Homo sapiens: one gene and its partners. The protein of the gene in region 2 interacts with the protein of the main gene of each other region in a biochemical or structural test. Each region holds a gene or a part of one and is shown on either strand. Other genes may lie near its edges. The genes, in order: INHBA, BMPR2 and GDF6.

What was found.
Region 1: the proteins of BMPR2 (region 2) and INHBA form a complex in vitro, tested with the Homo sapiens proteins (one study listed by BioGRID).
Region 3: the proteins of BMPR2 (region 2) and GDF6 form a complex in vitro, tested with the Homo sapiens proteins (one study listed by BioGRID).

The regions. Positions count from the first base shown.
Region 1 is NC_000007.14:41,684,957-41,695,250, forward strand, and holds the end of INHBA (inhibin beta A chain preproprotein), read right to left. Parts: intron 9,133-10,294; exon of another isoform or gene 8,963-9,132; intron 5,587-8,962; coding exon 4,694-5,586; 3' UTR 158-4,693; downstream 1-157. UniProt on the Homo sapiens protein: Inhibins/activins are involved in regulating a number of diverse functions such as hypothalamic and pituitary hormone secretion, gonadal hormone secretion, germ cell development and maturation, erythroid differentiation, insulin secretion, nerve cell survival, embryonic axial development or bone growth, depending on their subunit composition.
Region 2 is NC_000002.12:202,369,500-202,380,774, reverse strand, and holds the start of BMPR2 (bone morphogenetic protein receptor type-2 precursor), read right to left. Parts: upstream 4,449-11,275; 5' UTR 3,301-4,448; coding exon 3,225-3,300; intron 1-3,224. UniProt on the Homo sapiens protein: On ligand binding, forms a receptor complex consisting of two type II and two type I transmembrane serine/threonine kinases.
Region 3 is NC_000008.11:96,148,570-96,158,863, forward strand, and holds part of GDF6 (growth/differentiation factor 6 preproprotein), read right to left. Parts: intron 1-10,294. UniProt on the Homo sapiens protein: Growth factor that controls proliferation and cellular differentiation in the retina and bone formation. Plays a key role in regulating apoptosis during retinal development.

The DNA of each region.
Region 1 (10,294 bases), on a different chromosome or scaffold from region 2:
CAGCTTTTGTTATCTCCCACATTCAGTCTGTTTCTCATCCTCTTCTGGATAATTACAGTAAAAACAAAATTATCACCCAGCAAAGGATGTGTCAATATGTGTGCAAAGTTGATCATGGAAAATAAATAAGACATAAAATAAAAATAAAAATAAAAAATACATCCCAAACAGGTCTTTTTATTTAACATAAGGCCAAAGAAGCTATCAGGCGTTGCTGAATACTGTCCACTAACTGTACAAAATATTGACTGCATGCCTCGCAAACACCAAAATATCCGCTGGAATGCCATAGAAATAAATAACTTCTGCTATAAACACATGAAAACATATCAAACTGTTATCTCTTTAAACATATTGTAAATAAAAAAATTACCAGTACTTCTACACAATAAATATTAAGAAACCATTGACATAGTTGAAATGCACTCATATAAATTAACAACTTTAATTACATTAGCCAAACAGACATTGGTTAAAGAACTGCATGTAGTATGCAAAACAAAACAAAACAAAACAAAAAACAAAGTAAAAAACCAACAAAATAGAAACAAACAAACAAACAACATCAACCACAGAACATAAAAAGTTTTAAAATAAAACAGGCTTCAGATTATCTTGGCTTTCATAATTATATTTTTCTTTTAAAGAAAAATATCAACCCATTGTCAATGCACTGTTTTTCAAAGCATTTAAATAGAGGGTAAAACCCTTTGGAAATTAATACAGAAGAAATGATTCACTTTATGCATAAAAAATAAATAATAATATAGCTGAGACATGTGGTTTGCTTCTGCTCTTGAAGATGTGAACAGCTTCTAAGCATTCATTTTCTCTGACCCATACAACAGCTTCTCAGTGATACAGGGTTTAATTTAAACACATACAATGTCCACCCCCAAACCTTCTGCCCACATCTACAAGTTTTATTTATTTTGTGGGTTTTCAGGGTGACTAAGTTTTTCCCTACATTGAAAAGAGAAGTTGCCAAAAGGTGCACAGGAAATCATTTTTTTAAGTGAATATGATAATATGGGTCCGTGCTTAATACAACTGAGACATATTTGTTCTCTGTTTTTTTAGAGTCACCTCTTAAAGTCCAATCCCACAATGGTGAAAAAAAAATAGAAAGTATTTGTTCTACCTTTAAGGAGACTGCAGGGATTCTCCTTGAAAACGGAGTATGGAATCAATCTTAAATAAATATGAAATTGGTTGGTCTTCTGGGATAAGAAATTCCCAACTCAGTGTGCTGAAATTCACCTGACTTTTTTGGAAAAAATAGTCGAAAATGTCAATTTGGTCCATAAAATACATGTTACTATTAAAAGATATTTAAAGACAAATTCTTTTCAGAGCTTCTAAGATTGGTGTGGGCAGATTTTTAAGAGCCTAGAGTTTAGTCTTAGAGAAAGAGTGAGGAGATAGTAAGGTTAGATAGAGCCACTGAGTTTCAAGAAAAAAACATACTACTAAGAATCCCATATGTTATAATTTAAAGCCTTTACTTTTGGCCTCATGCTGCTAGGTGAAAGAGTGGTTGTTCACAGGACTTGTATTTTCCAAGATGATTAAAGATGGTAAAATACTATCTTTCAATGTTATCAAAAAATGGTAGCAACTTATACTTCTATTTCAAAGCCATATAAATTTAACAAAATTAAAGTTTGTGGGTGTTTGATAACCCAATCACTCAATATCCAATTAAAATATGGAATAAGTTTCAAATAAAATATGGAATTACATTTCTCTGCTTCTGATAACTGTGGTCACTAATCAACCCCCATGTTATCCCCGATATGTCTAGGACTTAGCTTAAAAAGATAGCAGATGTATTTGAGATGAGTGGGAACTATACATGGGTATCAGCTTTCTTGGTAAATTTCTGCTTTTTCCATGGCCTTGACCATCTTTGCTACTGCGCAGTGAACCAGGACTTAATTTCTCACACTGTTTCTGCAGGTTCCGGTACCAAAGAAGATGCAGTTCAAAATACTGCCAGTTTTCCAAGAAATTTTGTAAAGTTGAACATGGCCATCTACTCTTGCCTTAAAACTTTTCTCACCACACCCACCTTCCCACATGCATGATATCCAAGGTCGACAGACCTGGATTAGAATCCACTCTCAAGCTTCTCATGCAGTGCGTATTGTATTTTCTGCATAAGAAAGGGCTGCCTCTAGAACACAGTAAGTGTATTTGCCCAGTAGTGACATTGCCTACATATAGCCAAGTGTTATAGTATACCAACTTAGTATATTTTTCAAGGAGAGCTAAACCACCTTTTGTAATGTTTGGTTTCTCACTGTTATCTTCCTTTCCTATAATTAATTTATTTTAATCTACAAATTGACATAGGGCTAAAAGCTTCAATATTTTACAAAATATTAATTAATGTAATTGTTCCCAATTATTAGAAACTTTTTTCCATTTTTCAAAATGTTTGCCAACTTCACACAAGTGTGTAAAAATAGGGCTCTGGATTTTCAAAAGCACATACATGAATAATTTATTAGCTATTCCAGGCAAGCTAAGTACTAGAATAAACTAGATAAAAACTTGGCTTTAAGCATGTACTTTGATATTTATAAAACAAAGGTGTTTTTTTTTCATTTCTGCATCTGAATCAATACAAATTTACACATGAAGAATTTTGGCTGTAAATTAAAATTTTAGAGATTTTTACTACTGCCCTCACCTCTGCCTCCTCTTAACTGTTCTCTTCCTTACTCTCCCTCTCTTAACACTTTCTCTCAAATTAATTATCTTTTAGTTAGTGATGACATTATTTTTCCCAGCTGGTACAGGTAATATTTCTCACAACCAAGCCTTAATCATTTTTAAAAAATACACTCAACTCTAATTCTGGCCTAAATATTATTTTTCTGAAAAAGCTTCTGATTTAAGATTGATTCCAATAGACACTAAGTTGGAAAAACATCAGCCCAGAGTTTTGATTATCATCCTGTTTTCCCCACAGGGGATAACTTGTAGAAGTGGGAGGGGGCACAAAAAAGAGGAGGAAATTTGATCCCTGTACAATGAAAGAGGGCCTTGCTGAATATTCACTGGAATTTCCAGGCTTTTTCCCATCCGAATTTTTGAAATGCGCCCACCTAGTTCAGAGTAAAAGCAAAAACTATAGCCTATCCTTCTTAAAAATACTGTGTTTTGCACACAAACATTCATTGCTTTAAGAACATTAAAAAATGACAGCCTGAAGTGCTTAAAATGTGTATGGACATGGTACAATACATGTATATATACATACAGATATGCATATGCACAAGCAATGTATATATACACATACAAGCATGTAGTTCCATGAATTTGATTGAACTTGATATCCAACAGTGTACAACTACTGTACATCCAGTATGAAATGTCCTGTTTCATGGATGTAAAAGGAGTCAAAAACCAAACTTCTCAGGTCTTTTAAGCCTGAACACAATCCACACTACTCAACCTTGAATCCCAACCCCTGACTCATTGATGGTGAATGATACCAACCACAGACAGACTGTTTAAAGGCTCACACAAATGTCTTTGGTGTATGTGTCTATTTTTTAAGGTACAAAATAATAATAATAATTATAATTATAATAATAAAAATAGCTATTTTGTGTGCTGTAGCAGTTCTTTTATAGCTCACATTAAGTGCAGCTCTTAAACCCCACCCCCACCCCCAACCAAAGAAAATACTTGTTAAATAAGGATTAGACAGGTCAAACACCATTGTAGTGCAAATAGTAAACGATTAAAAAAAAAACAACAACAACATTTACAAAATATAGAAATGTTTGGATCCAACAGATGGACAAACATATTCCTTTCAAGTATCTCTCCTTGAAGAAAATAAAAATTAATCAGATTACTTCCAATACAAAAAAGTCTCTCTTTTTGTTCTCTCTCAGGTAAACAGTTTCAAACCTATTAGGTTGCATAGTTCTAAGATCATAAGCACCTTAACGAAATGTAACTTGGTATTCTTTTTTCCTTGATCTTTCATTCTTTCCATACTTGTTCTCAATTTTTTAATGTTGTTTGTTTTGTTTTGTTGCAAAAGTGGTACAGAAAAAGGAAGTGTGACCACCTGCACACGATTGTTCTTTTACCAGTATGTGTATATATGTAATGTGTGGAAATGCCTGTGTGTGTGTGTGTGTGTGTGTGTGTGTGTGTGTATGCTGATATACACAGAGATAAGTGTCACACAGACATACCTTATGACCTGGGTAATTGGGTAGGAAAGTGCCTGTGATGGGCCCTTTCAAACTCATGGCTTTCTAGATGCTATTTGGGTTGTTCTAGTCCACACTACTGCAGACTAGATTGGTTGATTCAAGGCTCACAAGGGAACCTCAAGGGGGGAAAGGACAATACCCCGTTTAAACAACTGATGTCATCAGTGTGATTTCAGAAGAAATAAAGGGTACACCATTCTCCCTTTCCCTCCCAATTCCTGTCTCTTTCACTGCTTCATCTCTGAGCCCTGGCTAAGGATTTTTTCCACATCTTCCTTCATCTGTTTCATCAGGTTTTGTTTTTAATTTACTTTTGTTTTTTTTTGTTTTTTTTTTTGTTTTGTTTTTAATTTCTATTTTTCTGGTTAACTCAGAAACCTTAAAAATTTCTTCATTTTGCCACTGTCTTCTCTGGACAACTCTTGCTCCCTTTCCCCCTGGGCTGGGCAACTCTATGAGCACCCACACTCCTCCACGATCATGTTCTGAATGTCCTTTTTGATGATGTTTTGACCATCATCATAGTACAACATGGACATGGGTCTCAGCTTGGTGGGCACACAGCACGATTTGAGGTTGGCAAAGGGGCTATGGCCCCGCATGCGGTAGTGGTTGATGACTGTTGAGTGGAAGGACAGTGAGGACCCGGACGTGCCTGCTATATGGCTCGGGCACTCACCCTCGCAGTAGTTGGCATGATAGCCAGAGGGAGCAATGATCCAGTCATTCCAGCCGATGTCCTTGAAACTGACAAAGAACTGTTTCTTACAGCAGATGTTGACCTTGCCATCACACTCCAAGCCCCGCCGACGCCGGCGATGAGGGTGGTCTTCAGACTGCCGGGCCTGCAGCATGAGGAAAGGTCTGTGCGACTGCTCCTTTTCCTCATCTGCTCCTGCCCCACCTTCACCTCCGCCCTTCTTTTTCCCTTCCCCCTCCTCTTCTTTCTTCTTCTTCTTGCCCAGGAGAACCAAGCTGGCGCCACTCTCCTGGCACTGCTCACAGGCAATCCGAACGTCCAGGGAGCTCTTGCCCTGGTCCAGCAACCGCTGGATGCTGCTGGAGACAGGGAAGACATGCCAGGTGCTCTTCCGAGCGTCTACTACTTTTTCAGAGAGCAACAGTTCACTCCTCTCCCCCTTTAAGCCCACTTCCTCGGCCTCTTCCCCTGTGTCCAAGCTGCCCTGCGGGTGCTTCTGCTGCTGGAAGAGGCGGATGGTGACTTTGGTCCTGGTCCTGTTGGCCTTGGGGACTTTTAGGAAGAGCCAGACTTCTGCACGCTCCACCACTGACAGGTCACTGCCTTCCTTGGAAATCTCGAAGTGCAGCGTCTTCCTGGCTGTTCCTGAAGATGAAAGACAGCATAAGAGAAAACAGGCACACCTGTTAATTCCAACATTTACATGCACTCGTAAATTTCAGGCAAGCAGGAGTCTTCTGTGACAGACCCTCTTGAATAGGGGTCAACAAATGACAGCCCATGGGCTGAAACTGTTTCTGTACTGCCTGCAAACTAAGAATGGCTTTTATACTTTTAAGTGGTTAAAGAAAAGTGATATTTTGTGACATGTGAAAATTACCTGAAATTTAAACATTAGTGCCTGTAAATAAAGTTTTGTTGGAGCATGGTTATGCTCATTTCTGTACATGCTGCCTATGGCTGTTTTTGCACTATAATAACCAAGGACTGCGTAGCTGCAACAGACTGCCTGGCTCACAAAGCCTAAATTATTTACTCTCTGGCCCTTTATAGAAAAAAGGTTTTGGACCCTTGCTTTAGAATGAAGAGGGCCTGCGAGTCTGTGTCTGTTGACTAATTGCTCAACCTCAGTTTCATCTTCTATAAAAATGGGAATGACATAAGGACATTTGACCTGTTATCTCACAGGTTTAGGAAGGTCAAATGAGATAACATAAACAAAAAGACACTGTAAGCTCTAGAAAGCTAAGGAAATACTATTCTCAGACAAAAATGCAGCCCCTGGCCCCACCTCGCTGTGTAAGTCTGTGCAGTCGAGACACACTTGAGCCAGCCTCTTCTTCCCTTGTCACAGCCTGATTCCTCCGCCATCACCTCTTTGCTGGGTCACTGCAGCAGCATTTTCTTTACTTTGCCTCTGCAACACTAAGGAAGGCCTCCTCTCCAGTCATTTCTCCATGAAGCAGCTAAAGGCATCTTTCCCACAGGTGGATCTGATCACATCACTTCTTCTTGAAAGTCCTTTACTGAATTCCTATTGCTCAGTATCCAACAGAAAGTGGCTGGGACTTTGGGCTCTGTACATGCTGTTCCTCCCTTGAATGTCAGCTCTTGCCCAGTCCTGTTCTCTGGGGTCTAAGGCCTTGAGAATTCCACCCCCTTTCTCAACTGCAGGCAGTGACACCTGCTGTTCCTTCTGCCTTAAGTGCTCCTGCCCCAACTCCAACATACCACCCTTAGTGCTGCCTTTAATAATGTTTCAATTTTCAGATTGTTTGGATGACAGTTCCTCTAGGAGGCTTACCTCACATCACCTCCACCACCACCCTCCTGCCAGCCTGGTTTAGAATGCCCGGGGTCTAAGGTCACTATCATAGTCTAGTGTTTAGCAGAAAGTAGCCAATGACTTGATTACTTATTAACAAATAGAGGCGTCCTTAGCATTGAGTTCTATTAAATTAAGAGAGCCACCTAGTACCTCTGAATCCCCCATTTTTGCCTCTGACCCATTACAGGGCAGATTAATGGGCACCAGAAACATATGTCAAATAGCAATCGCTGCTAATGGACAGGAAATCCCCACATTGTCAGGGCAGTTGAATTTAGCAACCACTCAGTTCCAGCCTAACTCTAAAATTAGAAAGTCACCTATTTCCTTCTCTTTTCCTAAGCAACTGTATGTTTAATGACACAGCAACAATTACTATGAAAGCAGGTATCCAAACTAAAATTTTTTGATTAATCAAATATTTTCCCTCACTTCCATTTTTCCCACTTGGTGGCATATAGAAACATATCCTCTTTTCCATGACCGTGGACCTCCTTACAACTGTCTGCTGTACATGTATCCCATGCACAAATCTGGGAACAATCTTCAAGAAGTTCATCTTAGAACTTGCAACTCCCTGGGAGGATCTCCCTGCCTGGATTTCTATAGTTAACGGAAATCCAGCCATACTTATCACTCGAGGCCCTGAGATGTTTACGGTACTATAAATTTTAGGCACAGTTTCAAGTTCTCTGCAGCAGAAGGCAGGCTTTTCTGTGCATTGCGTACTGTGGATTCTGTTCTTAATTTAACACACTCTGCACACTGTGATTATGATAGTGGTAAATTCACTGAGGCAAGGGCCAAGCAGGGCTGCAGATGGATAGGAAAGGTTCTCTGGCATCTTTCTATAAACTTACGAGGATGCTGGCCATGATGATGGTGGCGGTGGTAAGGGGAGTTCCTCTGACTCCGACCTCATGTCTTTGGCAGGAGTTGAAATGAATAATAAAGCTGGGTTTATGATTAGATAGAATACCAGAGCAGAGAGAGCAGTTAGAGGGAGAAGCTGTCTTATTTTAGGAAGCATGATGACTTATTTTTTCAAAATCTGAATTCGATATTCCCCTTTGCTAAGAATTGGTGTGGGTTTTGTTGTTGTTGTTTGTTTCTTAACAAAATAAAAGAGAAGAAGATTCCCATAAGCAGAGCTTAATCATTTAAATCTAAAAAGGCAATCAGCAGTTGATTTTAGGGTGGCAGGGTCCTGCCAAGGCCTTAGGAGAAGGCCGAGGGAAACCTCCCAAGCCTTGGATAACTAGCCTGGAGGGTGTGCAGGTTTCCTCCAGCTTGGGCACATCTGCCTTGCCCCATAGAGAATGTTAACAAGATACCTGCTGTTTTCCCTTCTGCCTCTATGCAGGACAGCTTCTGAAATCCTAAACTGCACAGGGTGTCACTCCAAAAACAGACAGATAGTAGCTGCTAAATTAGAGAACCCAGAGGGCACAAGGTTGGGTTTTGTTTTTCTAGGAAAGAGTGTAAAACTGGAGTGTCTGACTAGTGCCCCGGATAGGGAGGCTTAATAGGTTTGGGGTAACTCATCCCCATGAGCTCTGCTCTACTCTCATCCACACCTGCCAGAAGGGGTCAGGGTGAAGCCGATGGACAGCAGTGCTGACCCGCATGCAGTGGACTTTCCATGAATAACACCCAAGGCTGACTACAGATGTTTAGGTGGGGGTGCCGAGGGAGGGTTACTTGGCTGACTAGAATTAGGGACAGCCGTGTGCAAATTGCTTTTTTAGGGCCAGAGAGGCTGAGGCTGCTGGCTTCCAGTCACACAGCCTACAGGACAGCCCCTGATTTCACAAGAGCAGGTTTCTGATGCATGATCTAGCCCCACCCCTTCTTCACAGGCAGCTGTACTTGGAAGCAAATGATTTAGTGTTCCTGAGAGAGGATTGTACAAAGAGAGTACTCATTAGAGGGGGCTCAATCTGTCAGGTGCTGTTATATTAGGATCAGAGAGTCATCATAAAATGACTTTCATGCTGGTCTTGGCTGATAATTAACTGCATGGCATCGCCTGCGTATTGTAGAGAGGCAAGGGTGCTGATTTATGCATCCGTTTAATTATCTGAATTGAAAGACTCTGTTCCCTGTATTTGCATCCACTGCCTGCGTGCTTTCTCTCTCCCCCATATTTCTGACATTTGGATTTTCCCCCTACTAATTGACATGCCTGTCGCCTCCTTCTCCTGGTGTCCATTTCTGGAACTGCTATTTGTATATTGCATGATATTTTATCAGGAAAAAATATAAAACAGATCTAATTTCATGAAAATGCTGTTGCCATAATGCTCAGGAGAACAGGGGGAAGAGAGAGATTCAAGTCTTCCTAATGTCTACCTTATATGCAGGTACATTTTACAAGTTCTATTGTATTCTGACTTATTAAGCAGTGCATATTTCTTTCTTTTACATTAGCTTTCATTGCAGAAGGGTGTGGGGAGATGAGACTGCTGGAAACTGACGTGGGATTGATGTTTATCAGGGCTGTAGGCTTCAGAAATATATTAAGCCTCGGAATGTCCTAGGTATGAAAAAGATAATAAATAACAGGTCAATTTATTATATTCCCTTTATCTCTATATTACCTGAGAGAGATTGCTATACTGCAGTGACACTTTCAAGATGCCCCAATCCTCCAATCTCCATGCATAACAATTTGAAAAAGGGAAGGTTGACTAAGGCTGGGATGTTCAGGATCAATTTCTAATCAGTTTCAGGTTTTACTCAAATATCTCATGCTGTAAACTCTTGAAATGAATGTCTTCCCATAGTGCGCCGTGAGCAGGTTCTGCATTAGTTTGTACAGGTGCGACCTAGGTTCCTGCACTATTACCTAGCTAACCAGATATAGCTGGTTGCTTTGCGAACCTTTCATTACCTGCTCTCTAATAATATTCTTTTCATCCTCTGTGCTATTTTTTCCCTCCCGAGGCTTGTGAGCAAGGCTGTATCACAGCCTGCTCTGCCTGAGTAATTCACTAAGAAAGTCCCACGCAAACCCATGTGGGTGATAATATTTCATCACTTAAACCTCTATGAGCTTGGTGGACACATACCAAAGAGAGAGAAAAAGAGGTGCAGAAAAATGGGCAAAGAGAAATTTTGTACCTCACAGGGAATACCTCTGAAATGCTGCTGGGTGGGAAGGATTGGACAGAGGAGAGACTGTGTAAGCTGGAAGGAAAGATAGCTGGAAGGGTGTTTGCAGCACATTTTCCTTTGCTTTCAGAATTTTAAAAATGTTTTGAATAAGTCAATCATGAAGGCATGGCAAGGGTTAAGCAACTAAGCCCCTTGTTGTTCCCTCCCCCTACACTAAGATGCAAAATGCTGGACTCATCCAAAAGTCCAGCATCTCAGATTTGTGGGTCTATGAACATTTTCAGTTAAATAAGCAACACACACATGCAGTGTTTCGATTTGGTTTTGTTTTCCTCACCAGGGTCCTGCTTAAAATATGTTGCTCTTTTACATATGGGCAATAGTTATGTCTCTAATGTGAATGTGGAA
Region 2 (11,275 bases):
GGTGGCACATGCCTGTAATCCCAGCTACCCGAGAGGCTGAGGCAGAATTGCTTGAACCCGGGAGGTGGAGGTTGCAGTGAGCCGAGATCACACCATTGCACTCCAGCCTGGGCAACAAGAGCAAAACTCAAAAAAAAAAAAAAAAAGAAAGAAATCCAAACAATCAGGACTGATGATATAAAGCAGTGCTTCTCAAGCACCTGCTTGAGTGAGACTTTGCGGGGGTTCTCCCAGAGAGATTCATTCAGTACATCTGGACTATAGGGCCAAAAATATGCATTTTTATCAAGAACCCCAGGTAATTCTGTTGCAGTACCCACACTTTGAGAAAAACTAAAATGAAGATTACTAAACTTCAGTTACTCAGTAATATTCACTAACATTAGATTAATCTTACTTTATATAATGTGTGTGTTCCTCAAGAGATGTATGTAAAATTGCAATCTAATCAAGTGAATTATTTAAAACGCATTACAGAAGTTGACCTTTAAATAATAGCTGTGTTGTATTCTTTTATTAAGAATTCATTCATAAACCAAGCCAGCACATCTTATTTTTCATAAGTTGTTTTTTTTTTTGGGGGGGGCATAGAAAATGTTCTAAGAATTAGGCGGGGTGTGGTGGCTCATGCCTGTAATCCCAGCACTTTGGGAGGCCGAGGCAGGTGGATCACGAGGTCAGGAGTTCGAAACCACCCTGCCAAAATGGTGAAACCCCGTCTCCACTAAAAATACAAAAAATAAAAATAAATTAGCTGGGCATGGTGGTGGGCTCCCGTAATCTCAGCTAGTCTGGAGGCTGAGGCAGGAGAACCACTTGCGCCTGGGAGGCGGAAGTTGTGGTGAGCCAGGGTCGTGCCACTGCACTCCAGCCTGGGCGACAGAGTGATACTCTGTCTGAACAAAAAAGAAAGAAAGAAAGAAAGAAAGAAAGAAAATGTTCTAAGAATTAAGGAGTCCAAGAACTCAATAAGTGAGAAAGAGGGAATCAAAAGAAATGATTTATCCATGACCCCGAAAAAGGATGTGCTATCAATCAGTCTTCTAGGATTTATTTTCCTGTTCAGCTGCACCATTTGCGCCTGTCGAGTTAACATCACTGCATCTGTGTAACCCAAATCCACACAGGCCCTCTCTAATCAGCTTGCACTTAATGAAGCTGCACTAGCCACTTCAATATTAGGCCAAGCAAAGTTTTACATGTTCAGAACTACGACATTTGCATAACCACTGCTGCACTAACACCTTGTAAGTGTCCCTGCTTCTTTACAAAGGTTGATCTGGTGAAGGCTAATTACTCCATCTCATATATCCAATAAGATGAGAAGTTGTTGCTGCTAGTGCTGCTGTTACCATTAATGTGGTATGTGAGGGCGCACACTATAATCCTGGCTCCATAATTTACTGACTGTGTGGTGAGTTATTCAAATTCTCTGTACTTTACTCTCCCTCTATGGAAAAGGGGAATGATAATAACCTACAACATAGAATTGTCATGAAGACGAAATGAAAAAATATATGTAAAGTTATTTGAATAGCTGATGGTGCATGGCAGGCACTTAATAAATACTAGCTATTATCATTACTGTTACAGGTCTGAAATCCAGCTTCACAAATTTTGTCATCTGGTGCTATGCAATACCAAAGAAAAAAAAGACTACAACCACTTTTAAGCAGTGATTCTTTTACTCTCTCCCTTTTAAGAGACACTATTCTAAGATGATTGTATTACCAAACAAAAATTAAGTTTATTTTTAAATAAATGCTTTTTCTCTTACTTTTATCAGTTCTGATCACAATATTATGAGCACGTCATCATAAATGAGAATCTATATTCTAAAAAGGTTAAGAATAACAAATAACATTGAAAAGCCTATGTTCTGAGATTTCTGCTCATGGAACGTTTAAGGCCTTTTACTCCATATTTTACAGGAACCACATGGCTTATGGCTAGAGAATTTAAATAGCTAACACAATATAAAGAAATTTAGAGAAAAATCATTTTTACTCTGAAAGCAACTACAATTATTAAAAATATTAAAATATCAGTTTTAAAGTAAACTCAGAAGTTCAAATTATTTTAACAGAACCATATAGATTTATCATCAATTTAACAGACATTAATCAACAGTAGACATTATTCAACAATAGCAAAAGCATAAAAGGAAACTTCAAATTTTCTTCGGCATTTTCCTAGATCAGACTTTCAAAATGAAAATAAGCAAGTAACCTCTGTATCTAACATAGCAATGAGAAATTTGTTTAATGTGAAACACACTTATCAAAAGAAAAAAAGTAATTCGAAAGGGTCATTTGGTCCTTTACTCGTTTTAAAAGCACAATCCATTTGCCCATCATAAACCAAGTGTACGAGTTATATGTAGAATTCACTCCTGAAAATTTCTAAAAGCAAATCACCAAAAGGCTGCTTGAAAAAATAGTTGCAAATAGAAGATAAGGTCTTTTTCCTAAGGTTTCTGAGAACTGAAATGAAAATATCCAAAGGAAAGGATGACTACCACCCTTTAGACTTTAGTGAAATGTCAAAGAACTTTCGGAGTCAAATCTCCTAGAAGTCTAATGTCAGGTCAAAGTTGTCTCGACAGCAAAGCCAATAGATAGATGCCAGATGACTAACAGTAAAGTTATCAAACCGTATAATACAATATATCAAGAATCTCACAGTTCTGGCTTCCTCAACATTTATTCTATTCATTCGGTAACATTTCTGAATAATGAAAGGAACATGGATTCCCAGAGTGATCTAAATTTCAAAATAAGGTTCAAGTGTGTGTTCTCTAGTTGATGTTCTTTTTACTATAAGCCAAAACCGCTTCTTTATAATAATAATTTTAAAAATCTACAGGTCTGTTTCCAGAGATCTCATAATAAGCACTGTTCACTGGTGATTAAAATATTATTTTTAATCGTTGCATTACCTCACAGCTAAAAATGTCAAGATACCACACCCAATATGTCTTTTTCACCCCGTAAAGGGGGGTGGGGTGGGAATATGGAAGTGGGGATAGGAAAATACACAAGAATATTAAAGGCGATTTCCCTGGAAGGCATGGGGCAGGCGCGCAGGCACCGGGTCGCAGCTCCGCTGCACCGCGATCGGGGGGACGCATGGCGAAGGGCAAGCACAGGCCTCGGCCTCTGCGGGCTCCCTCCCTCGCCACCCGCAGGGGCAGTGGCCGGGACGTGCCGGCCGGAGCTACTCACCAGCCGCAGTGCTGACCAGCAGGATGGTCCATGGTAGCCAGGGCACCCGCCAGGGCCGCTGCAGCGAGGAAGTCATCCCTGGGCCAGCCAAGAATCAGGAGGGCAAAGAAAAGAAATATGGGAAGTAGACCGGCGGAGAAACAGCCGGGAGGCTCGTCTTCTCTCCCGTGGACTGATCCTGCCCGTATCACAATACAGTTTGAAAGGACAAATGGCTGATGAGAGGACCTAGCTGCAGAGCTTTCATGCCGCTGCAGAAATTCCCTTCATTTCTCTCCCTCGCGGCTGGGGGGGTTCCTTCGCCTCGGACGGGGTGCCGCGGCCCTCCAAACGGAAGGCATGTCTGTGGGGAAAGCAGGGAGCCAAGAAGAAATCCCCCAAATTATTTCCCTCGTAGTTTCACGATATCAAAAAAATATCCAGGTCTGGGAGAAAACATATCCAGGGTGCGGAGGGCGGGGATTCGATCCGGGGTCGGGGGGCGAGGGTCAGAACTAGTTCCCGACTGCCGGGAAGGACGAAGCCGGACGGGCGGCGGCGGCGCCCGGCAGCCCTAGTCGCATCGCCCGCGGCTCCGGGAAGGCAGGATTCCTTAAGTTTCGCTTCGGTGCTTCCTTCACTCTGATTTCGAAAACAACAAATCCTCTTCCTTGACTGGATCAAAAAAGGTGCCTGCCTCCATGGACAAGCTCACAGTCCCCACGCCTTCGCAGAACAACCGTGAGAGGGTTGGGGAGGCCCTGGCGAAGGCTGAGGAGAGGTAGGAGCGGGGGAGGGGAGGGGTCGCGGTCGCGGCCCCGGTCCGGGCTCCCCGAGACGGCAGGCGGAGTGGGTGTGAGAGGCTGCCCCTTCTAGTCCTCCCGGCGGCGCTCCCTTCCCTTCCTCGCTTTTTATTCCTGCGGCTCGATCTTGCCTGAGGTAAATTCCACCAAGAAAGCCTCCTCTTCTCCCGTCAATGGCTCCTGTGAGCGAATCACAACCCCCCGAGGAAGCCGCTGCTGCTGCCGCCGCCGCCGCCGCCGCCGCCGCCGCCGCCGCCTCGTTCTCCCGCAGCTCTGGGCTCCTGACGGAACTCGGGCGTCGCGGACCGAGGGCGGGGGGCGGCGGGAGGGCGGATGAAGGTAGCCGGGGAAGGGGGTGGGCAGGGAGGCGGCGAGACACCCTGCGTCCCTCCGGGAGGCACTTCCAGTGGCTCCGAGCAGACCAGACACAAAGGGGGGAGTCGCCGCAGCTGCCAGTCTGCGGCGCTCCCGGTCACCGGAGTCGCCCCGCCTCCGCCGCCGCCTCCGCCTCCTCCTCAGTCTCCGGCTCTTCCCGGCCCTGTCTGTCTCTAGCCTGTGGTGCAGAGCGGGCGGCGGCGGCGGCGGCGCCGGCGGCGGGATGAAGCCCGCACTGCGCCTGCGCGCTCACGGCCCCGCCCGGCCCCGCCCCTCGTTCGGGGCTGGCTGAGGGCTCCGAGGCCCCACCGCAGCGCGTCTCTCCGGTGAATGGCCGAGGGCTGGGTGGGGCTGCGGTGGGCAGCGGTGGCCTTTCTCCTTCACACACATACACATGCCTTCCAAATGTGCATGGCTTGGGATTCGCGTATTTGTTTAAGAGACGACGGCCACATCCTTTTGTTCGGCGTTCAGCAGACTCCTCCGAGTTCCGGGATTTCTCCCGACTGAGGCGTCTCCGTCTCAGTACTCTCGGAGGAAAGCCTCGAGGGGCAGAACTGCCCTCTGTTGTTTCACGGGGCTGGAACCTCCCTCTCCGCAGCCCAAAGAATCCGGATGGACCCGCCTTTCCCAGAACCGGAGACCTTGGCCTCCTCAGGCTCCCCTCTGACTCAAACAAAAGCCGGAATTGGAAAGACCACCCCTTTGATGTGTTCGCTGTAATCGACGTCCTGCTTTCCTCAACCGCCCATTCCCTTAGCCTTCTTAGTTGACAGGAATATTGAGTATTTGCAAGGATGCGAAGCCAGAAAAAAAAAAAAGACTTTTAATTCTATAAATCGTCCCGCTGCGTGCGCGCGTCTGTCCGTACAGCGCGGTGCCCACCCCGAGAGAGGGCCTGGATTCACCAAGGCTGGGGGCCTTGAGGGCTTTTTAGGGCACGTGAAAGGAAAATGGAGTTAGAGTTGTGTCGGGATAGAGAGTGGGATCATTTTGCACTCAAGGAATTGAGAAGATCCCGTTGGTACCGCAGTTTCCAAGGATTTGTGTAGTGCGTTTTTTGGATCTGGTTTGTACAAGCGACCAGTATAGGAGACGGGATCCCTCCCGCCCTTACACCCCGCTGCGGGGTCAGCCGACGTGGGTGGGATTTTGCTGGCGGCGAGGGGAGAAGGTGACGTGCGTGGCGCCATGATCGGAAGTCTGGACTGAATTCTTAGCTGCGAGGTGGAAAATGCGCGTGGGAGGGCGATCTTGAGGGGTGAAGTCTGGCCTTCCCATCTCCTACCAGGCAGGAGGGTTATGCTGAAGGCTGGTTTTGCTGGTCTTTCATTGTGGCTAAGGGCAGTTCCACAGATACAGTCATAGATAGACTCCTTAAGTCATGCTCTGCTTGCTTCTTCTAGTCCGCTGTTACCTCTTTATCTGAATTTGATGTAAATAAATCTCCACATTCCTTAAACTGGTTCTGTTATACTAAACATCTTCCATAATTAGGGGTTGTAGCAATACCAACCCCGGATTCTAAGACTCTTTTTAGTTGAAATATGTTTATGCTGTTTACCCTTTAGACAGAGAAAAAAAAATTCTACCTAGTAAAATCCCTTAAAAAGACGAAGAGCATATGCTTTGATTCATTAGCTTTATTTATTTAGGTTTTATTTATTTATTTATTTATTTATTGAGGCGGAGTCTTGCTCTGTCGACCAGGCTGCGGTGCAGTGGCGCGATCTCGACTCACTGCAACCTCCACCTCCCAGGTTCAAGCAATTCTCCGGCCTGAACCTCCCGAGTAGCTGAGATTACAGGCGGCGCCATCACGCCCGGCTAATTTTTGTATTTTTAGTGGAGACAGGGTTTCACCATGTTTGCCAGGCTGGTCTCGAACTCCTGACCTCACGTGATCCGCCCGTCTCGACCTCCCAAAGTGCTGGGATTACAGACGTGAGCCACCGCCCCCGACCGATTCTTTATAGCTTTATTACTGTATTTTGTTTTGCCCAAAAGGTCTAAATTAGAAACGGTATTGTTTTACCATTTGTCTTTCAAGAACTGAGAGTTTCTAGCACTCAGAGAAATTGGATTTTAGTATGTTAGAGGTGCAGAAAGTTTAAAGTTTATTAATTCGTAGTACACTTTTATCTTCCTCAAATTGAGATCAAGTACTTCATCATTCAATTTTTATTTGCTTAAGATTTTTTCCAAGAAACATTAAGTGTCCTTTTTGTAGTTCCCCCTTATCCACCGTTTCAGTTACCTGCAGTCAACCACGGTCTGAAAATATTACATGGAAAGTTCCAGAAATAATAAGTGGTGTTTTTTTTTGTTGTTGTTGTTTTTGTTTTTTTTGAGACGTAGTTTCTCTTTTGTTGCCCAAGCTGGAGCACAATGGCACGATCTCAGCTCACAGCAACCTCCGCCTCCCAGACTCAAGCGATTCTCCTGCCTCAGCCCCCTGAGTAGCTGGGATTACAGGCATGCGCCACCACACCCGGCTAGTTTTGTATTTTTAGTAGAGATGGAGTTTCACCATGTTGGTCAGCCTGGTCTCGAACTCCTGACCTCAGGTGATCCGCCCTTCTGGCCTCCCAAAATGATAGGATTAGAGGCGTGAGCCACTGCGCCTGGCCTCATAAATTTTAAATTGAGTACTGTTACTAACTAGCTGTGAGGAAATCGCTGCCATCCCACACTGTCCTTCTGGGATGTGAATCATGGTTTGTACAGTGTATCCGCTATAACCTCCTTAATCACTTAGTAGCAGTCTCTTATCAGACTGACTGTGGCAGTATGCAATATCCAAGTGCTTGTGTTCAACTAACCCTCGTTTTACTTAATAATGGCCCCAAAGCACAAGAGTAGTGATGCTGGCAATTCAGCCATACAGAAGCTGTAAAGTGCTTCCTGTAAGTTAAAACGTCAGAGTTCTTGCCTGTAATCTCAGCACTTTGGGAGGCCGAGGCAGGCAGATCACAAGGTCAGGATGATCGAGACCATCCTGGCTAACACGGTGAAACCCTGTCTCTACTGAAAATACAAAAAAATTAGCCAGGCGTGGTGGCAGGCGCCTGTAGTCCCAGCCACTCGGGAGGCTGAGGCAGTGAATGAATGGCATGAACCCGGGAGGTGGGGCTTGCAGTGAGCCGAGATCATGCCACTGGACTCCAGCCTGGGCGACAGAGCAAGACTCTGTCTCAAAAAAAAAAAAAAAAAAAAAAAAAAAAAAAAAAAAAAAGTCAGAGTTCTTGACTTAATAAGGAGGGAAAAAAATTATAGGCTGAGGTTGCTAAGATTGCTGGTAACAATGAATCTTTGGCAGGGTGCAGTGGCTCACGTCTGTAATCCCAGCACTTTGGGGGACCAAGGCAGGAGGATCACTTGAGGTCAAGAGTTCAAGACCTGCCTGGCCAACATGGTGAAACCCCGTCTATACCAAAAATACAAAAATTAGCTGGGAGTGGTGGCACGTGCCTGTAATCCCAGCAGCTACTCCGGAGGCTGAAGCAAGAGAATCACTTGAACGCAGGAGGTGGAGGTTGCCCATTGCACTCTAGCCCGGGCGATAGAGACTCTGGCAAAAAAAAAAAAAAAAATCTATCTGTGAAACTGAATTGTGAAGAAAAAATAAATTCATGCTAGTTTTGCTGCCATACCTCAAACTGCAAAAGTGATGGCCACAATGTGTAATAAGTGCTTAGTTAAGATGGAAAAGGCATTAAATTTGTGGGTAGAAGACATAATAGAAATGTATTCCAGTTTATAGCAATTGGGTTCAGTACTGTCTGCAGTTTCAGGCATCCACTGGAGGTCTTGGAACAAGTTCCTTGTGGATAAGGGGCAGGGAGGACTACCGTACATGTTATAAATGTATGATAAATTATATAGAACATAAAGAAAAGGTCTTAGGAAATTCACAAGAAAAAACACATGCCGCTGACTTGGTAGGTAGACAACTAGATATGTACCCTCTTCCCTTTTCTGTTCCTTCTTGTGATATTTCAGTTGGGACATGGCTGTTCACTCACAGTGAGAAAGAACATCAAAGAACAGAATTAAGACTTGGCAAGAAACCTGTCCACGACAAAAGGCAGACAATGTAAGTCAAGCTCAGCTGAGAACAAAGGACTGGTGATGCAGGTGAGGTTTGGCATCTGTACTAATTAGGATGGGCTAAATTACAGTAACATTCACCAAATCTCAGCATCTTATTGCAATAAAGGTTTATTTCTCACACATGTTACATGTTTGATATAAGTCATCAGGGGACCCATCGCAACTTGAGTTCACAGGAAATAGACACTGAAACTCTGAAATTTGTATGCAGGAGGTTATTACCTAATGATGGCAAGAGCAACCTCTGTGGGGATTGAGGGATGCAAGACTGGGCAGAGGGAGAAGTTGAATTGCAACACATTTGCAACTGAGGCATCAATCAATCCTGCAGGAATTCTGGAGCTGGGCTGGCCTTTCAGCATTGTCCTAATCTGTGTCTGCTAACACTTTAAGGTACACCTAAAAGACCCCCCAAACCCAGCAAGCTTTTCATTCAAGATTCCTTCAGTGGAGTACATCTAGGGAAAAAGTCCCTCAAGTATACTGATAATTTAGGCTCCTTGAATGCTGCCTTGGAGTAGGAAATCCAGCATTAGACAGACTGCCTAGCCAAGTTGGGTAAAACCAGTAAATTTTTTTTTTTTTTTAAAGACGGAGTTTCGCTCTTGTAGCCCAGGCTGGAGTGCATTGGCACGATCTTGGCTCACTGCAACCTCCGCCTCCCGCGTTCAAGCAATTCTCCTGCCTTAGCCTCCCAAGTAGCTGGGATTACAGGCTTGTGCCACCATGCCCGGCTAATTTTTGTATTTTTAGTAGAGATGGGGTTTCACCATGTTGGCCAGGCTAGCCTCGAACTCCTGAACTCAGGCGATCCACCCGCCTCGGCCTCCCAAAGTGCTGGGATTACAAGCGTGAGCTACTGCGCCCGGCAAAACCCAGTAAAATTATACCTTCACACCAACCAGTCACTGGATGTGGGCTGCACATATTGAAAGAGATGTGACCGGCCTGGAGCGGTGGTTTACGCCTGTAATCCCAGAACTTTGGGAGGCCGAGGCAGGCGGATCACGAGGTCAGGAGATCGAGACCATCCTGGCTAACACGGTGAAACCCCGTCTCTACCAAAAATACAAAAAATTAGCCGGGCGTGGCGGCAGGCGCCGGTAGTCCCAGCTACTCGGGAGGCTGAGGCAGGAGAATGGCGTGAAACACGGGAGGCAGAGCTTGCAGTGAGCCGAGATCACGCCACTGCACTCCAGCATGGGTGACAGAGCGAGACTCCATCTCAAAAAAAAAAAAAAAAGACAGACGTGACCTTTGATAAAAGGGCTCTCTTTAGCCAACAGCTACCCCCAGAGAGGGACCCAGCTGACCACTGTCAGCCACCAGCAGTTCCAGCAGTTGGGAGAAAGAATGCTTTAGACCTAAAGGGTGGATCTGGGGAGCTCAGCAAAATGTCCACTGCATGGACTCTCTCATTTTAATCACTGAGGTCCTTAGGTTGGTAGAGGCTTCACTGAGACACATGTTTTCAAAATTGTGACAGTAGGGATCATAAAATTTAATTGCTAGTGTTGCAGTGTCTTGCTGTAGCCATTAAAAAGCTTCCACCTAGAAGCAGTGTGCTTTACTTCCACTCATATTTTAGTGGCCACCAAAGTCAGATGGCCAAACCTAACTTTAAGAGGGCAGAGGCTGGGAGCAGTGGCTCACGCGTGTAATCCCAGCACTTTGGGAGGCCGAGGCGGGCAGATCACAAGGTCAGGAGTTCGAGACAGGTGAAACCCCTTCTCTACTAAAAATGCAAAAAATTAGCTGGGTGTGGTGGCAGGTGCCTGTAATCCCAGCAACTCCGGAGGCCTAGGCAGGAGAATCGCTTGAACCTGGGAGGCAGAGGTTGCAGTGAGCCTAGATCGCGCCACTGCACTCCAGCCCAGGCGACAGTGCAAGACTCAGTCTCAAAAAAAAAAAAGAAAAAAAGAGGGCAGAAAATGTAATCCTACCATGTCATGAGAAAGAGAACCTGAATATTTGTGAACAGCCCTGATGACTAACATAGTATCCAAGGGTAAAATAATCCCCAATATTCTAATCACCAAAACCCCAACAAGTAGGATTTTTTTCCTGGTAGGGGTAAGGAAGCAGGAAATAAAGGAGAACAACACAGAAATCCAAGAGGACAGACTAACAGCATCTGCGAAACTGATCTTCACTATGTATTATAGCCCCTCATGGATGATATCTCTGCCTTCAGTTGGAGGACTGGTCCTGGTTTTAAGAAGGGACAGAGGGGCACTAAGCAGATTATTAGAACAAGAATTGAAATAAGGACCAAGGCCAATTTCTTGTTAAATAAATGAGGACATGTAGGTATTACCTGGGCTCAGAAATACCGACTACTTCTAAGAATAAACTTCATGATCATAAAGGGGTGGTATCAAAGAAAAATAGAAGAAAAACTCTTAGCTCTAGCAGACAAACAATATGGAAGTTAGCACTGGGACACCTTTCCAGATCAGAAAAACAAACAACTAAAAGCTGCTTAGAAACTTTAGAATTTTATCTTTAGGCTTAAACTGAGAAACAGGACAGGGCATTGTCTCCTTTTGGAAGATCAAGGTATAGTTGTGGGGAGAGAAGAAAATCCAGTTGACCTCCCTGACATCCTTTGGGCCTGAAAGCAACCTAATTCTGTCTTCCTAAAACAAACAAAGCTTTTAAAAAATAATAAACAAATAAAAAGAGCCTTGCTTTTGAAACCTAGATTTATTGTCTCATCTCTTTCCTTCCCTTTTCGTCTAACTTTGGAAATTTTAGTTAACCTAGCTTCTGGGGTCACCC
Region 3 (10,294 bases), on a different chromosome or scaffold from region 2:
TCCCAGATGATGCTGATTCTGCTGGTCCAAGAAATTACTCTAAGAACCACTGATCTAACTGGGGGTTGTCCTCTAGGTTCTTTGAATTCACCACTGAGTAGGGGGGAGCACCAAACAAGGTGCTGCAAAGCACAGGGCTCAGGGCAGCATCTAAGGCAGTACTCACCAGGACCAAGTCAATTCTACCTCTCCCAGCCCATTCGTGGCCCCCAAAGCCACCCCCATTTTTTTATCCTTTCAGCCACAAGTTCTCTTGGTTCTGGGTCTCCAGAACCTCTAACCCCTAAACAGAAGGTCCAAGAAGGTGGCTCCTCTGTGCAGCTCCCCTGCAGACCACATTCCCTACCTGTCTAAACCTGCATCACAGAAATAGCTCAGAGGAGGCATCCAACCTGGGGAGTGAATACAACACCATGCACTGTTACCCTGAAGACACTTTGCCTGCTGCCTGCTGACCTGGCATCACAGAGCCTGGCTCAGCTGCCATGAGCCATCTGTGGGCAAAAAGCCAGCCCTTCATACTCCGTTCCAAAAGCCTCCTCTCCCATTAAGTCTTGTATAAATGAAGACTGATGTCATCAAATGATCCTCTCTCCCACCCCTTTGACTAAAAAAACATGCACTTGTCACTTGAAAATCTGTGGCACTTTCCCACATCCTGGAAGTGAATCCTATGCTTTGGGCCCTTAAATTGAAATTGACCAGAAATACATGGTGGGAGTTTTTTATTTCCCTTTTACTTTGCATCAACCTGGTTTGTTACAGCTTATTCACACCTCTGTTAACGGTGTTTGCTGAACATTAGACATATAAACATTTCCAGTTACAATTGCTGGATTAGGGCTTATCTTCGTTTCCTGGCAGCTACGTAGAGAAAGGAGGGTGAAGAGAGAAAAATAAGAAGGAAGGAACAAACCGTGGCATGTTAGAAGATACTCCTTCATAATGGTCAACGAGTTGGTAAAAGGCTGAAAGCACCTCAAACATATATTTCTGGTGTAGAATTTAGGAAAAATTTAAAAGAGGGGAGATGTTGGTCAAAGGGTACAAATTTTCAGTTAGGGTGAATATAAGGTAAAAAATAAAATTTTAACTAAAAAAAGAAACCAAGAGAAGGAATGGTACCTATTTGCAAAGTAATTACCATTGCACCCATTTTAAATGAGAAAACTGGCCTAGAAAGGAAAAGGGCATCTGTCCACGGTCACAGTACGTGGCTGGAGAAAGTTGGAGTGGCAAACTCCAGAGCGGAAAGGAAAAGATGCCCGCAACGCCAAAGGCCAGACGCCCGGGGAACCTGAGCCCCAAGAGGGCGGCATGAGGGAGGGACACGTAGCTGCAGGACTCTGTGCGCTTGCCCACTCCAGCCTGCCCACTCCAGCCCCAGAGCCTTCTGCTGGGGGCTACTTCCTTGGGCTAGCCTGTAGAGGGTTTCCAAAAACCAGAAACTTCCTTTGGTTGGAGGTGGGAAGGGCCTGGCATTGCATTTTCCCAAGACATCTCTGAGATATATACTCAGCTTGAGGTCCCTTTTGAAAGTCCTAGTTGGATTTTGTCACTCGCCTGGCTGTGCACCCACGGCTCCAACTTCCCGGACTTGCAGGATTCTTGGTACGGCTGACTTTGGGCTCCACGAGATTCCTCCGCGCGCACCTGGCTCACATCTCTGAGTACGCAGTGACCCTGGATAGCTACTGGCCAGGCGTCCCGCCACGCCTCCCAGCCATGTTCTCCGGTGGCACAGGCCCCGCGACTAGGCCACTGTCCAGAAAGTCGAGAAGATAGTGGACTTTCCCATCCCCAATCCCCAGGCAGGGAGAATCACCCATCTTTGCAAGAGAAACTCTAGGCGCCTTTCCCTTACCCCCTCATTTTAGAGCCAGCAGCAGCATTGAGCGCTTGTAGGGCACCACCTTTGTGCTAGGCACGTGCTCAGAGCTTTGATGGCCTCTCTCACTGAATTTTCACAGCGAACGTCTAAGGTCAGGCCTACTGTGATACTCACTTATAGATGAAGAAACTAAAGCTCTAAGAGGTATCTTGCCCATTGTCTTGAAACTAGCAAGGGACAGATGTTGAAGGTCCTAATTCCAAGTGCCCTGACCCCAGTCCTGCAGCGCAAGAGACAGGTGTTGAAGGTCCTAATTCCAAGTACTCTGACCCCAGTCCTGCAGCCATGCTGCTCTACCAGGGTCCTGTTTTGGCAGGGGGCCAGGAAATAGGACATAGCTTCATCATTAGTGTAATCAAGGTGGGCTGGGTTCCCCCAGGATTTTTTTTCTTTTCTTTACTACAAAGAAGACCTCCAAGCTCAAAATTCATGACTGGGCTTGGAGTCATTTTCTCAACTAAGTCTCTCACCTTCCGCGCTGCACTGAGGGGGCAAAGTCCATCAGGTTGGAAATAGAGCCAGGTGTACTGGGTGATTAAAAATGAGCCACCAACCCCTCCTCCTGGAGTGTGAAGGGCTTTAAGGGGAATCTGTGTGCCAACTATGTACCCTCTTCCTGAAATACAGATCTCTTGGGCCTCCCCCTGAGGAGATACTCATCCTGAGTCAGGCCTCTGTTGAGATCTGAGCTTTGCAAGCTGCTGACGCATTGCTAACATTCTTACTGAGATGTAAGTTCGGGAAGCAGTCCATACAATTCACCCTTTCCAGGGTGCTTTTTCTTAACCCCAATACTCATGCCTGATCCCCCAGCATAATAATCGTTAAGAGCAAACACTGGTGTGGCACTAAATCTGTTCTGGGCATGATCTAAATTCTTAACTTGTAGTAACTCATTTAATTCTCAAAACCACTTCTGAGACAGCCATCATTCTAAACTAAAAGAGACAGCTTGAGTAACTGGCTCAAGATACTAAGTAGTAGAGTGGGCAATCTGGCTCCAGTATCTGTGCCACCACCCTAGACATCCCAGCCCTGATCTCTGTGCCTTGTAGAAACCCTGAGAAACTCTTCCATGCTGCCCATGCCTGGAGGGAGGGCATCAATCCCTGGCCGGCAAGAGTCACTCACTTCAGCAGAACTACAGCAGTCATTACTTCAGCAGAAGAAATGTCGATGATTGGACTTGTGAAAGAGAATTTAGGAGGAAAATTAACAGGGCCACAGAGGGGTGCAAATGAGATAAGGTGTGAGAGAAAGACTTCTGAATGCAAATGTCAGTCACTACTGACAATGTGGAATGAGCATAGGAATTTAAAGTCTAAGAGACATAAATTTGAGTCCTGATCTGTGACTTAGTGGCTGGGTGACCTTGGTTAGACTGGGTCGCATAATCTCTCCCAGCCTCATATGCCTCAGCTGTAAAATGAGAGAACCACCTGTACCTTGCAGGATCATTGTAAAGGTCAGAGTCAAAGTACCTCAGGGATGTGCATAGTACATAGAGACGTCCAGTGAATGCAGCCAATATTTCTGTGACTACTTACATCTTCTAGGGGAAGGTGCACCTGTCCTTCTCTTGACTTCCTTTGAAATCCAGTTCTCTGGACTTCAGTCCTTGTGGTCCACTTCTCTCCACAAGATTCCAGAAGTGAGTGGAGGAAAGGTGCTAGGAAGCATGAGAAAGATGAAGACGCTTCCAGTTCCTGCTTATCTGAAGTCAAGTGAAAGTCAAGGCTCATGGAGGCTGCAGCCTCACCTCATCATCCCGATTCTTCTCAGTCCTGTGAGGCCCTGTCACCACTGCTGTCCCTCCCACAGTGCCAGGTGAACAGATGACCTCCACCCCAGCCACATCAAGGATCCAGCCCTTCTTGCAGGTTTCCTCTTCTGCAGGGGTCAAGGCCAGTGACAGCCCTTGTGCTAACCCAAATGACTCCCTGGCTGGCAGTGCAGCCCTGAGAGGCCTAAGGATTCGTTTCTTTCCCCACTTTGGTGTCCTTTTGTGGGGGCACGATCTGACCACAGGGCCAGTCTGGGGTGGGGATAAGGAGGCAGATGTTACTGATCTTCACTGTGCAAAGGGCCAGACACATATTGATGGGGAGGGCTGCAATGGAGGGCCCCTTGGGCTGCAGCATGAGGCCAGGCCTGTGGTGCTTGTCACTTTCGAAGGTTTCGTTGGCGGGTCTGTCTTCAGTGTGTGTTCCTTCTCATCACACATTCACCAGTCCAGCTTTTCTCATGTCTCTTGGCTTCCCCAGTGCCCTCCCCAATAGCTTGCCCTGTATTTCTGCTTCCAAAGACCAGAGGGGTCCAAGGCAAGTCTTCCACGGAGTCTTGGAGAGGCTTTTCCACTCTTTCCCTCAGGCCTCCAGACCCAGGCCCTTCTCTTCCTGAGGGGCCTGGGCCTTGTAGACTCCACAAGTTAAGTGGGTCTAGTGGCCTGCCTGGATCCCTGGGAGAAATCCCTGTATGGGCACAGCAAGCTGCGGCTCAAGGTGAGGCAAATGAATGAGAGTGGAGAGAAAGAAAAGAAAGGAGATCCTCGAATCCCACCCAACTGAAAACAGCTTCGCACCCCTCACCTCGGGGCCTCAGCACCGCCTTTAGTGGCCTTAGCTCTAACCCCAGGGTGCCTGTTTCTGACAAGCAGTGCTGGCTGGGGAGAAGCCCTCTCCCGTGAGTGCTGCTCACCCTATCAGGAGCTCCAAGGCGCTTTAAGGAAACTCCTTTTGTCTCTAGAGGATGAAACAGATTCATTTACAAAGCAGTTTTCCTGAACTTAGTTAATGACCCTGATGGCTGCGTGCTCTCTTGAGGGGCCAGAGAGGCAAAGCTGAGATCAAGGGCACTTCACTGTGCTTCTCTTTTCAACGGGGTCCCATTCTGGGCTCCCGACCACAGCGGCTCAAATCTTAATTTGACATCACTGCAGATGAAACCCAAACCGAAGCTCTCGTACTGTTCCCGCGCTGAGCCCTCCCTCCCCATCTCACTGAGGCGCGCACGCGGCCTGCCCTTCCCCTGGGGCCGGGACCTGGGGGGTTGGCTAGGGGCGGCCTTCCCTGCACTGTCGACCGGTAAGTCACCCGGGAGCCCAGGGGAGCAACCAGGTCCTCCACGAAGGCTAGGGGAGCGGAAAGGGAGGAATCCTCAAACTGCCATCGGAGCTGGAATATGATCGGGCTGCATGGCTTCAGTTTTGAGATCAAAAGTAGAAGGAAGGGTGTTCATTTTATGTGACTTCCGCTCCCTGACCAGTTCTGAGCTTGCAGGTGGGGGCGAGGGTTCAAACTGGCTTGTAGTCGCGGGGAGGATATTGGACTCAGCACCCAGGGGTCCTGCGCAGGAGAAACCGCTGTGCTGTGCTCTTTAAGGTGCTGGGCCGTGTGCAGTCTGGGAGGAAGGGAGAGCCGCAATCTCTGTCTGCGGTGTTCATTTAGGTCTGACTTTCGAAACAATTTAGCAAAGTGAGATTCGTGGGCCCTAGTCTATTCCTAGTCAATTTCCCTCCACGCTGAGCTTCGGAGCGGCAGTGGGCTGGGAAGTGGAGTGGGAGGCTGGACCAATTTGCCTGGAAGCCAGGTTTGCAAAGCAGGCGCACCGATTCTCCTGGGCTCCTATGTTATTAAGGGATGCCCTCTGCACCCCACTAAAGCCAATCCCCTGCGCTGCCCCTGTGCCCGTCCTCTGTCCTTCTCCCCAAGCTAAACCAGCCTGGGCTAGAGGCCCGCCCCTGGCCTCTTTCACGCCCACTCTCGGGTCCCTAAACCATGCCCCGCCCCCAGGCGCCGGGGCCACTAGCGCCGCCGCGCGCGCTTCCCTAGGAACGTTGTCCAGCGCCGCCCGCCGCCCGCCCCTTCCAAGCTCTTGCAGCCCCTCACCCCAAGTGGACCCAACCCTCAGTCCCCAGCAATGCTAATGGACTGTCTTAGAAGGCAGAGAACTGCAACCCTGGAACCCATTAGTCCAAGGAGGACCTATTTAATTCCTGTAAACAGGAGATACTATTTAACCGACTTAGAGTTTAAAAATAAACAGCCAGGCCTTGGGGTGGGGGATGGAGGGATGTCAAGCAACGGAATGGCACGGTGAATCCACATTCCGGCATTCCACACCTCGAGGGCTCGGCTCGATTCAGTCCCCTGGTCCAAAGAGTGTCGTTTGACCCGGGTTATTCAATACCCGAGGGGTTATCGAACTAATGGCTTTCCTTTTACTTAAAAGCCCCCAGGGATTACTGTTGATTTGCTCTAAGACCTTTGGTGCACGCAGTAGTCCTAGCAGGAAACAAAAGTTCTCGTTCTGCCCTGTTTCTATCATACCATCTTCCTCCCCACAGTCTCCACCTCATTCCCTTCTTCCTTCTCCGCCACCGCCCCAGAAAGACGTCACCACTTTCGAGGAGGTGTGTAAGAACCTCAAGGACTCCAGCTAAGAAAAACATGTGGTGTTAGGGCCTCCGATGCAGTGCCCTGCGTTCCCCGCGGGTCCAGGTGACACGCATCCTCTCCGGTCGGAAAGAGGAGCTTTCAAGTCCTGATTCAATTGGGGGGTGGGGAGGGTGGAGAAGAGGGATTCGCCAGGCCTGTCGTGATCTGTGGTCTGAGTGACTTTTTTCTTTTAATGCGCAGAAACCACAAGGATGTTTGAGCACGTTTTTAGATCCCCTCCCCCATCGGCAACTCCACCGCGCGAACTCCCAGAGGCCCGAGAGCCTCCCGCGTTGAGGAAAACGCTATGTCCGTCTCAGATTAGCCTCCTTTGCCAAGGAAACTCGCCAAGAATCCCTGCGCAACCTGCGCTCTCGCTGTAGAGCATACTAGGTGGTCTTTCTTTCTTTCTTTTTAGAATCTTCTTGCTTTTCCCTGTAAGGCAGACCTTAAGGCCTTAAGGATTGGAACTACAATAACTGATGTTTAACAGCAAGTCAGTGCCTAAGAGTTTGGTCTGTGGCCTTAAACGTGCCTTACTTATTCGAACCAGAAGAGCAAAACAAACTTCCAATTTAAGGCTTCTTTCCCTTACCCCCAGGCTTTTTGCAGGACCTTCCAGTTCACCTGGCTGGAGGAGGACCGTGAGCCTGGACAGTGGCACAAACCCCGTGCCCGCGCTCATGCAGGCGCACCCTCATACGCACACACTTGAACGCTTAGCAAGTCTTTTCCAAGGCTGTTCCCTCTTTCCGGGGAAATAAAGCCTAGATTGGAACCTTCTGCCCAGCTTCCTCATTTGGCCGTCTGGTCTGCATTAGTGTTTTTATAAGGGACTCAAACAAATCGAATACAAGGTCACCAAATAATTAACAGTTGTGAATTCCCTCCGTCCCCATTAAAATACTTCCCTGCTTATATTTCATTTTCGGTTTGCCAACGACAACAGGGTACCGGCAAAAGCACTGCTGAGTTGATTACACCACTCTGCGGCTCAGGTCCACCCAGAAACCCGCTGTTTTGCATAACATGAGGTACCAGATGAACTTCAATCGCGAGGGGACTATGCAACTCTCTGAATGCCCTCCCCGCAGCCGGGCTATTCCCAGAATGGTCCTGCTCTGCCCTTTGGTAATCACGACCCAGAAGGTGAATGGAGAAGCCAACAAACAATCAGTGGCAAACTGTCCTGAGAGTTATTTCTAGGGCATCAAGTTCTTCAAGGATGTTCCCATCTCGTTTTGGTTTTTATCTGTTCCTTACTGCCTCCTTTTTGAGAATATTATTACAACAAGAAAAAAGTAAAGGGTATTCTTATTTCAAAGCCATCTGGAAACCTAACTCACAGCAATAGTCTTAGACTCATTTCGGTTCTCTCATTCTTGAGAGTTGTTTTTTCTCCTTGTTGGAATTATGTGGCACCTTTCCCTACATAAACTGAAAGTCTGAATCAGTCAGTCTCTTTCTCTCTCTCTCTTTCCCTCTCTCTCTCTCTCTCTCTCTCTCTCTTTCCCTCTCTCTCTCTCTCTCTGTCTCTCTCTTTTCCTCCCTCCCCTCTATCTCTCAGCCCTGCTAAATTCATAGAACTAATTGTCTGGCTTTCCCAGGCCCCAGGGCTGGGGGTCCAGGGCCCCAGTACTAGTAGCCTTTTAATGAGTTATTTCATGAGCAAATTGTAATTTCATCATATCCAACCTTGTCCATTCTCATCCCATGATGGCACCTAAACACACAGGCACACACCTTCTCACCTTTATGGATCCAACATCATTTTTAAAGCACAATATAAGAGCATTTTTAAAAATCAGGGATAATATGGTTTGTGCATCTGCTAAAATAAGAACAGGAGGAAGCAAAGCACACCAAAATTCAGACCCTCACATCTAGTTTCACTCACACTCCTAACTGGGTCTTAAGTGACTGCAGACAAATATTAGACTGGGGGAAAATCTTTCCATTTTTTGACTTCTGCTTCTTGTCATCATCCATTAGAAACCACCTCACCACTTAAACTATCTATACAGTGCTCTAGTTAAACATGCAGGGTCTCGAATCTTATATAGGCCCCACCTCTCGCTAGCTGTGTGACCTCGAGCAACTTGCTTAACTCCTCTGTCTTCTTTACTTCACCTGTAAAACGTGGTGATGATAGCGTTTTCCTAGGAAGTGGTTGTGATAACTAAGCGAGATAATTCATGTAACCAATTTTAGTGCAATGCTTGGTACACAGTAAATTTTCAATAAATCGTGGTTACTATTATTACTCCTAGGTGTCTGGAGAGCATACTGAAAGAAGGGACCTGTTTTAGGTTTGTTTGGTTTCTTTTTTTTTTCCCCAATAAGTTCTCCTCCTGGAGGATAGGGAGAAGTGGCCTGGGATGGAGTACAGAACTTGCTTTCTTTATAAACCTAAAGCGTCCTTCATTCACTTTGGGCAGAGTTTATGCCTGTTCTCCCACTCTCAACCATAGGCTTCAGGTGTAACTTTGGGGTTTCCGGGGTAAGGAAGGCTTTTTACAGATACTGTACAGGAGCAAGTCGCCCATGCCTCCTGGACTGACTTCGGGGCTCCTTTCCTTTTCTTCGCTCCTCCCCTTGGGGGACCCCCGGCTCCACCGAGCCAGGCCAGCCCCACTCGACGGCGATTTAAACATCCCTTAGGCAAGGCGCCAAGTTAGCGCTGCTGGCCCAGCTCTAGGCGGGCCGCTGCTCTTTCCTCCTCGCCAGGCCGTCCACGCGTTGGGGGAGGGGACCCTAGGGGGGTTGGCGCGGTTAAGAGCCCCACGTGAGAGGGGCGGAAGTCCTTGCCAGGAGCCGGGGATGCGCGGCTGGCGGGTCCCTTCCATCACGGGAGACGAGACACCGTTTGATGTGTTATGACATGAACCCTCAATTAGATCGCTGAGTTGAAACACTCCAATCAGGGGCCCGATGCTAAGCAAGCCCCGGAAGGTCCAGCCTGAGGTCACCGCCGGTGACACATCAAATCAAAATCAGTGAGAGGGAAAGTGAGGCTTTCCCTTTATCAAGCTGGGGCTGCAGCCAGCAACGCACCCCCTCCTCTGCGCACCCCTCCCGCCCGTGGCTCCGCACTCCTTCACCCCCGCGCGGCGTGCGACAAGCCGCACCGCCTTCCCAGTCAACGAACTGCCTTTCTTCGCATTTTCTGAGAACCCGGAGACGCGGAGGAGACAGCGCCTTTGAAGATGCTGTCCGGGTGGTCATGCAGCGTCTCCTCCCGCTGTGGACCGCTCGCATCCCCAGCCCTCCACCGCATTCCGGGGTTGTAGCGGTACTTGTGGATCTCGGTCCTGCTAGTCTGGAGGCCTTGGCTCGGGAACAGAGGCCTCCCCAGACTGGGTGCACATGCAATCCCTCCTCTATCTCCAGGATCGGGGGCATACAGCGCAGTGGCGGGGATGGGGGTGGGGAGGCTACAGGGCAAACCAGGGTAAAGTGATTTCGCGTCTACGCCGGATTGGGGCCCCCAAGACTTTTCCCCAACCCTTGTCTGAATGCCACAGGCTTCCGGAGACACCTCCGAACAGCCCGCAGGGTCTTTTGGTCCTGTGCCAAATTCACAGGGCGCAGCGAACCAGTTATGGTGCCCACTTGGGGGAGGGGCAGAGATTCTTGCCACTTCATTCCCGGGCAAAGAAAATCCGCGCCCAACCGCCGGCCAGCCTAGGCCTCTGGGACTTCTTCTCTTGAGGAAGGGCCTCTTGAGCAGTCTTCTCTGAGCTTCCTTAGCCTCCTTCCGCAATTGTAGTAGAGAAAGTGCACGATTAACAGAGGACTTTGAGGGACAGAAACAACTGTAGCAAGGCGTGCGTCGTGGGGAGGGTTGGCGAGCTGCACGGGCAGCACGGAGGCCAGGGACTCAGTTGCACTACTACGAAGAAGCCACATGTCTTTGCAAAGGTGACTTTAGTAGCCCTAAAATCATCATAAAATACCTGGCGTTAAT